2 linked regions of the Homo sapiens genome follow. The protein of the gene in region 2 purifies or fractionates together with the protein of the main gene of each other region. This does not show direct contact. Each region holds a gene or a part of one and is shown on either strand. Other genes may lie near its edges.

Region 1 (3,500 bases), on a different chromosome or scaffold from region 2:
TCATGTAAATAATCAGGCATATGGTCGTTTCTGTGCCTACTAGAAAGCAGGGTACAGTATTGTCACAGAGTAGCAAGAGTCTGATTGTTAAATTGAGACATTATAAATTCATCTAGTCATGATTCCCTCTCTCACAAAATAGATGAGTGAGACTAGAGGCAACACTATAATATCTTACATGGGTGACTTAATGTACCATCTAAGACCCAGAGTATAAGAAAACTGGGCATAGGAAAATATTTACTTGATTCAATTGAATGAATCAATAAAAAGAACACTCCCTCACCAAAAACAAAATGCATTTGTCTTATGTACTTGTGTCTTCTTTACAGCAAGGACTTCAAGACTCAAGTTCAAAATGCCAGGCATTGGAAGAAAACAATCTCTCTCTTCGACATACACTATCAGACATGGAATACAGACTAAAAGAACTGGAATATTGTAAACGTAATTTAGAGCAAGAGAATCAAAACCTTAGAATGCAGGTATTAAAACTTCCTTTTAAATATACAGTATTACCTTAGTTACATCATTGTAATCCTAGCATTTAGAAAACATATGGACTGCTTTCCCTCACATACTGTTAGATCTTAATCACTGACATTTGAGCTTTATAATGCAGTTCCTGAAAATCACTTTCATTATTTCAATGTCTTATTTAATCATGTGGTTTTCATCTAATAACAATCCTTGTAACATAACATGTATTTTCTTCAAAACAATCCAATTACAGATAGTTATTTTGCCTTCTGTAGGTTTCTGAGACTTGCACAGGCCCAATGTTGCAGGCTAAAATGGATGAGATTGGCAACCACTACACGGAGATGGTAAAAAACTTGAGAATGGAGAAAGATAGAGAGATCTGCAGACTGAGGGTATGTTGATCCTACATTGCATAAATACACAGGTCAGCACAAACTTTCTAGCAAGATAATGATGGCTTCAAGTTTAAAGCTACCAGAAAAAATTAGCTGAAGGTAGAGTTTTAGAAATATGTCATGTATTCATTTGTTTTAAATACATTACTGTATCTAAAATATAACTGTTAAATGATTTTCTAATTTAGCTTAATTTCTTCTAGGAAAGTAAAAGAAGATATTCATTTCAGTGGTTTGGTTTTGGTTTTTATTAATTTATTTTTTGGGATAGATGGAGGACTCTTCATGATCTTGCCTAAAGCATGCTTATGTAGGCAAAAGCAATATATGAAATTACTCAACAGAGCCATAGTTAGATTTGTAAAAATTCTCACTTAATTTCGAGGGATGATGAATAGCAAGGACTTTGTCAAGCATGAGGAGGAAAACAGTGTTAAGTTTTAGGTACCTATAGTTGACATCAAAATTAAGGTGATATTTATAAGTATATATTGCCTTAACTTGTAATTCTAGGTTGAATTTACTTAATCTAACCCTTATTTTACTGATTCCTAAAGGTAGTAAAATATACTTAAATATTTTAATAAACAAAATAATCACAAATTTGTCTCTCCAAACATCACTGTATAATTTTTACCAAAAATCAAAATGAAACAAAATATAATTTGTTTTCCAAACCTACCAATACTTCTAGCAGATTTCCTCCACTGATTTCTTTTCCATTCCAACATTACTAACAGCACTTCTACCTAAGCTACACACATATGAGGTAAAGAGGGAAATGGACAAGATTTGTAGTCAGAAGACCTGTTTTGGAGTTGCAGCTATGTTACTGCGTGACTGTGTCATTTAACCTCTCTGGAGCCCATTATCTGTTTTGTAAATGAAGATTATAATAATGCTTATTTCATGGGACTGCTGTGAGAACTGAGATAATTCATGCAGGAGGAATATTTTGTGAACTGAAAATCAGAATATAATAGTAGTAATTTGTTATTGCTATTTCCTTAATTATTATTTCAAGGACTCTAAAGTGCCTGTTTTCTTAGCTTTACTTTAAATTTTGTGGCCTAAGACTGTTACGTAGATAATGTTTAGTCCTACATAGCAAAGACACCTTAAAAAAAGGAGAAATTTGTAATTGGCATTTCATTTCATATTACATACTCATGAAATTCTTCGAACGTTTATGACTATTGGTATTTTACTTTCATTTCATAACTGTGTGAGTTTGTGTCACTTAACCTCCCTGGAACTCAGTTACACATTTTCTATATGAAGATTATAATAATATTTATTTCTTTTTAAATCCTTAGTCCCAATTAAACCAGTACCATAAAGATGTTTCAAAGAGAGAAGGAAGTTGTAGTGACTTCCAATTTAAGCTTCATGAACTGACAAGCTTGCTGGAAGAGAAGGATTCCCTCATAAAGCGTCAGTCAGAGGTATAAAAGGAAGGGGTGGGGATGGAGAAAAGTAATACAACTTAGTACTGTAGTACTGTAGGATAAATACTTCCCATGGACTAGAAAAGGACACATATCCAAGAGTCACTTTATTTAATGAAATAAAATGTAGGTGCAAGTGAGGAAGTAGAATATACATATTTCAGGAGACACAATTCAAATGAAAGTTACAATTGAAGCAAAAAATAAGTGCTGTTATACATTTAATATTTTTAAGACATTGATTTTATATTTCATTAGCAGTGAAATTCCCAGTAGACTGTGACCTCCTTACTACATTATGAGCTGCTTCATTAAAGCATGTGTTATATTCCTCCTTGTATCTGTAGCATGTAGCCCATGACCTGGCATTCAATAGGTACTGAAGGAATTGTCAAAAATTATGGGTAATATTGTATTGCTGTTATGGAGCAAATGGTGCTTGTAGTAACATTCATTGATAAACTCTCTCTTAAGAAACTATATCTGCTTATATATTGAAGTTTCAATACTTTTCTTCTATGGATATACTTTTCAGGCTTTTCAGAGCAAAAACTTTCACATCCTCATCCTGAGAACCACGCCCATTCAATCTCAAGTTATCCTCCAAATTTAGATATCCTGTATCAGTTGCAGGTTCCTGCACCGGCATATAATATAACTTATTAGGTACTGTGAAGCAACACTAGGTGATATTCAACAAGTGGGATTAGAACATTATTACGTCAAGGCTAAAAAGGGGTAAAAGGGAGGGGGTATAATCATTGTTAGTAACCCTTCTAAATGATTAAATATATTTATTATCTCATGTTTCTACTTTCCATCAAATGATTATATTATCTTTTATTTGTAAGGAACTCTCCAAGTTGCGGCAAGAAATATATTCCTCTCATAACCAACCCTCCACTGGTGGAAGGACTACTATTACCACTAAAAAGTAATGTATTTTTAAATGAAATTTGAATATAAAAATTATGATCATATAATCCAAGTTATTTCATGTTTAATTGGTATATACAAGCTAGACAGAGTTTGGTGTTTTCTGCTGGCCAGTTATTCTACTGAAGAATGAATATTCACAAAAAGACATCACTATTGTGGTCAAAAAAATCCTGAAGCACATCTTTCCTGAATTTACAATATATTAATTACCTTGGAAGTGAAAAACAAATAATTG
Region 2 (2,293 bases):
TTGCGGTTTTGCCATTGAAAGTAGTGGCAAAACCCAAAATTACTTTTGCACCATGCTAATACACCATCCAGATTTTCTGTGTGGTTGATGCTTGCACGAGGGGTTTCTGAGTTGGCCGAGAGAGAAACTGCATCTGGTACATTGCCACCTTTGCTTGTGGTCACACTCACAGTAATTTTCCAGGCAAGCCTCGTGGGCCCTGCTATCTGTCCCAGGGAAAGAATTTAGGAGAGTAACATTCTCTACCACACTACTGAGGTCCTGTTTGAGGGGAACCAGTTCATATGTTCATTCATTCAGCCAAGTTTTACGTTGCAGATTCTGAGTTTTTGGCTGGACACTGGAGAGGCCTACAACAAGAAATGATCCCTCCGGGACTTCCTGAGGGAGACAGATAAGGGAATAACTTGCAATGTAATGGCAAAAAGGGATAAGAGAGATTCGTGGCCCTTTGGGAATGATTCTTACCCAGCATGTCTCTTTCAGGTGCATAGCAGCCTGGCTGGAAGCATTCTGAGTGCTCTGTCTGCCCTGGTGGGTTTCATTCTCCTGTCTGTCAACCCGGCTGCATTAAATCCTGCCTCATTGCAGTGTAAGTTGGACGAAAAGGATATACCAACCAGACTTCTTCTTTCTTATGATTATCATTCACCTTACACCATGGACTGCCATAGAGCCAAAGCCAGTCTGGCTGTAAGTATTTTTTAGATGGGATGTTCTAATTTTATGAGGTTTCTGAAAGCCTTGATTTCTTATTATTCCATCCTTTGAAAATCTCTCTGTTAATTCTGGTTTGGGCATCTGGAGGAAGGCCAAGGTTATGTAAATCAAAGGGGGGCTGCATGGATGAGATTAAGGGGATTACATACTAACAGAGTGGAATTGAAATGTCAGATAAGGTTGATGATGAAAAACTAAAACTTACGGTTTGTAGAGTTTCTTAATTACTCAACTAATCTAATTTTGGAGGCATAAATTATGAGTTTGTCAAACTGAGAATGTTGGTACATAGAGTGGTGAATTCAGATTGGCAAACAGAGCAGAAAGACCCGGGTGATCAGAAAATGCTGACAAGGAAATGTGGTATGTGTGTGTGGTAGGGGGTCAGTTTGGTCTAAAAAGACATCAGACTAAAGATGAAGAAACAGAGAATAGGAAATATGGGGTTAGATGGTAAGGGTTTCTCCTAATGATTACAATAATGAATAATACTAATCAGGTGAAACGGTAACATTATTATTGCTTTTTGTTATAGCTGAAAGAAGTGTGATATCTTAAATCAGGAGATAAGAAATATAGGGAGATGGAGAGTGTAACTGAGAATTATCGCAGGAGAATTCTCTCTCTTTGGAAGAAGAAAAACAATGAAGTTTGGCTAACAGAAATAATGTGTCTGAAGTTGAAAAATTAAGGGGTATGTGCATGGCCAGCAACGCATTGAGAGGAAAACAGGCAACATAAAAGTAAAGAAGTTGCAGAATATTTATTGTCCTGCAATCATAAAAATGAGGTCAGCCAAGAACTCACCTGGACGATGGACAGATAGAAAGGTCTGGTCAAATTCATGCTTGTACAGCACCCATTATAAACTGAGCCTTGCTTCCAAGGTAATGGTATAATGAGGAAAAAGTGCATGCAAATGAGGCTGACAGTAATTGGTACAAATTCCACCTTGGGAAAAATTCTGGAGAGAAATTTGGGAGAAATTTGGTAGTGATAAAGTATAAATTCATGATGGGACGATTTTATATTGGAAATAAGAGAGATTCTGTTGAGCTTGCTTGCTGGAACAATTTCTAGGTAATGGACACAACATGTATCTTCTATTTAACTGTGTGTAAATACCACAAAACAAAAGTTCATGTGATCAAATTACCTCCCTTTATTATCAGATGACCAGTTCTGCACAAAGAATGTCTCAGGACAGAAATGGTAGAACTCATCCTTGTGAGTTGGTGTTGGTGATTAGCAACAGTTTACTACCTTCACTGTTTTTTTCCAAGTCTTAAAACACCAAAAACAGCAAAAATAAAAAATAAACAACAAAAATAAAAAACATCCAAACAGGTTCAGATACATAGACAGGGATGTCAATACTGAATTTTACAAAGGGCTTACACAGCCAAAACCTCCTTGATCCTCACAAATCTCTGAGAAATAAATGTTAGTATGCATGTTTGATACATGAGGAAACAGGAGCTAGAGAAAGAAAGAGACTTGTCCAGGCTTACACAGCTACTCAGCAGTAAAGATGAGACTATAATGGAGCTGCTGATTCTCAGTCCTGGGAGCT

Evidence for each region.
Region 1: the proteins of MS4A6E (region 2) and POF1B purify together in Homo sapiens (affinity purification with mass spectrometry; one large-scale study listed by BioGRID and IntAct). This does not show direct contact.

The regions. Positions count from the first base shown.
Region 1 is NC_000023.11:85,303,166-85,306,665, reverse strand, and holds part of POF1B (protein POF1B), read left to right. Parts: intron 1-332; coding exon 333-485; intron 486-755; coding exon 756-875; intron 876-2,194; coding exon 2,195-2,323; intron 2,324-3,177; coding exon 3,178-3,260; intron 3,261-3,500. UniProt on the Homo sapiens protein: Plays a key role in the organization of epithelial monolayers by regulating the actin cytoskeleton. May be involved in ovary development.
Region 2 is NC_000011.10:60,337,255-60,339,547, forward strand, and holds part of MS4A6E (membrane-spanning 4-domains subfamily A member 6E), read left to right. Parts: intron 1-486; coding exon 487-693; intron 694-1,255; exon of another isoform or gene 1,256-1,446; intron 1,447-2,293. UniProt on the Homo sapiens protein: May be involved in signal transduction as a component of a multimeric receptor complex.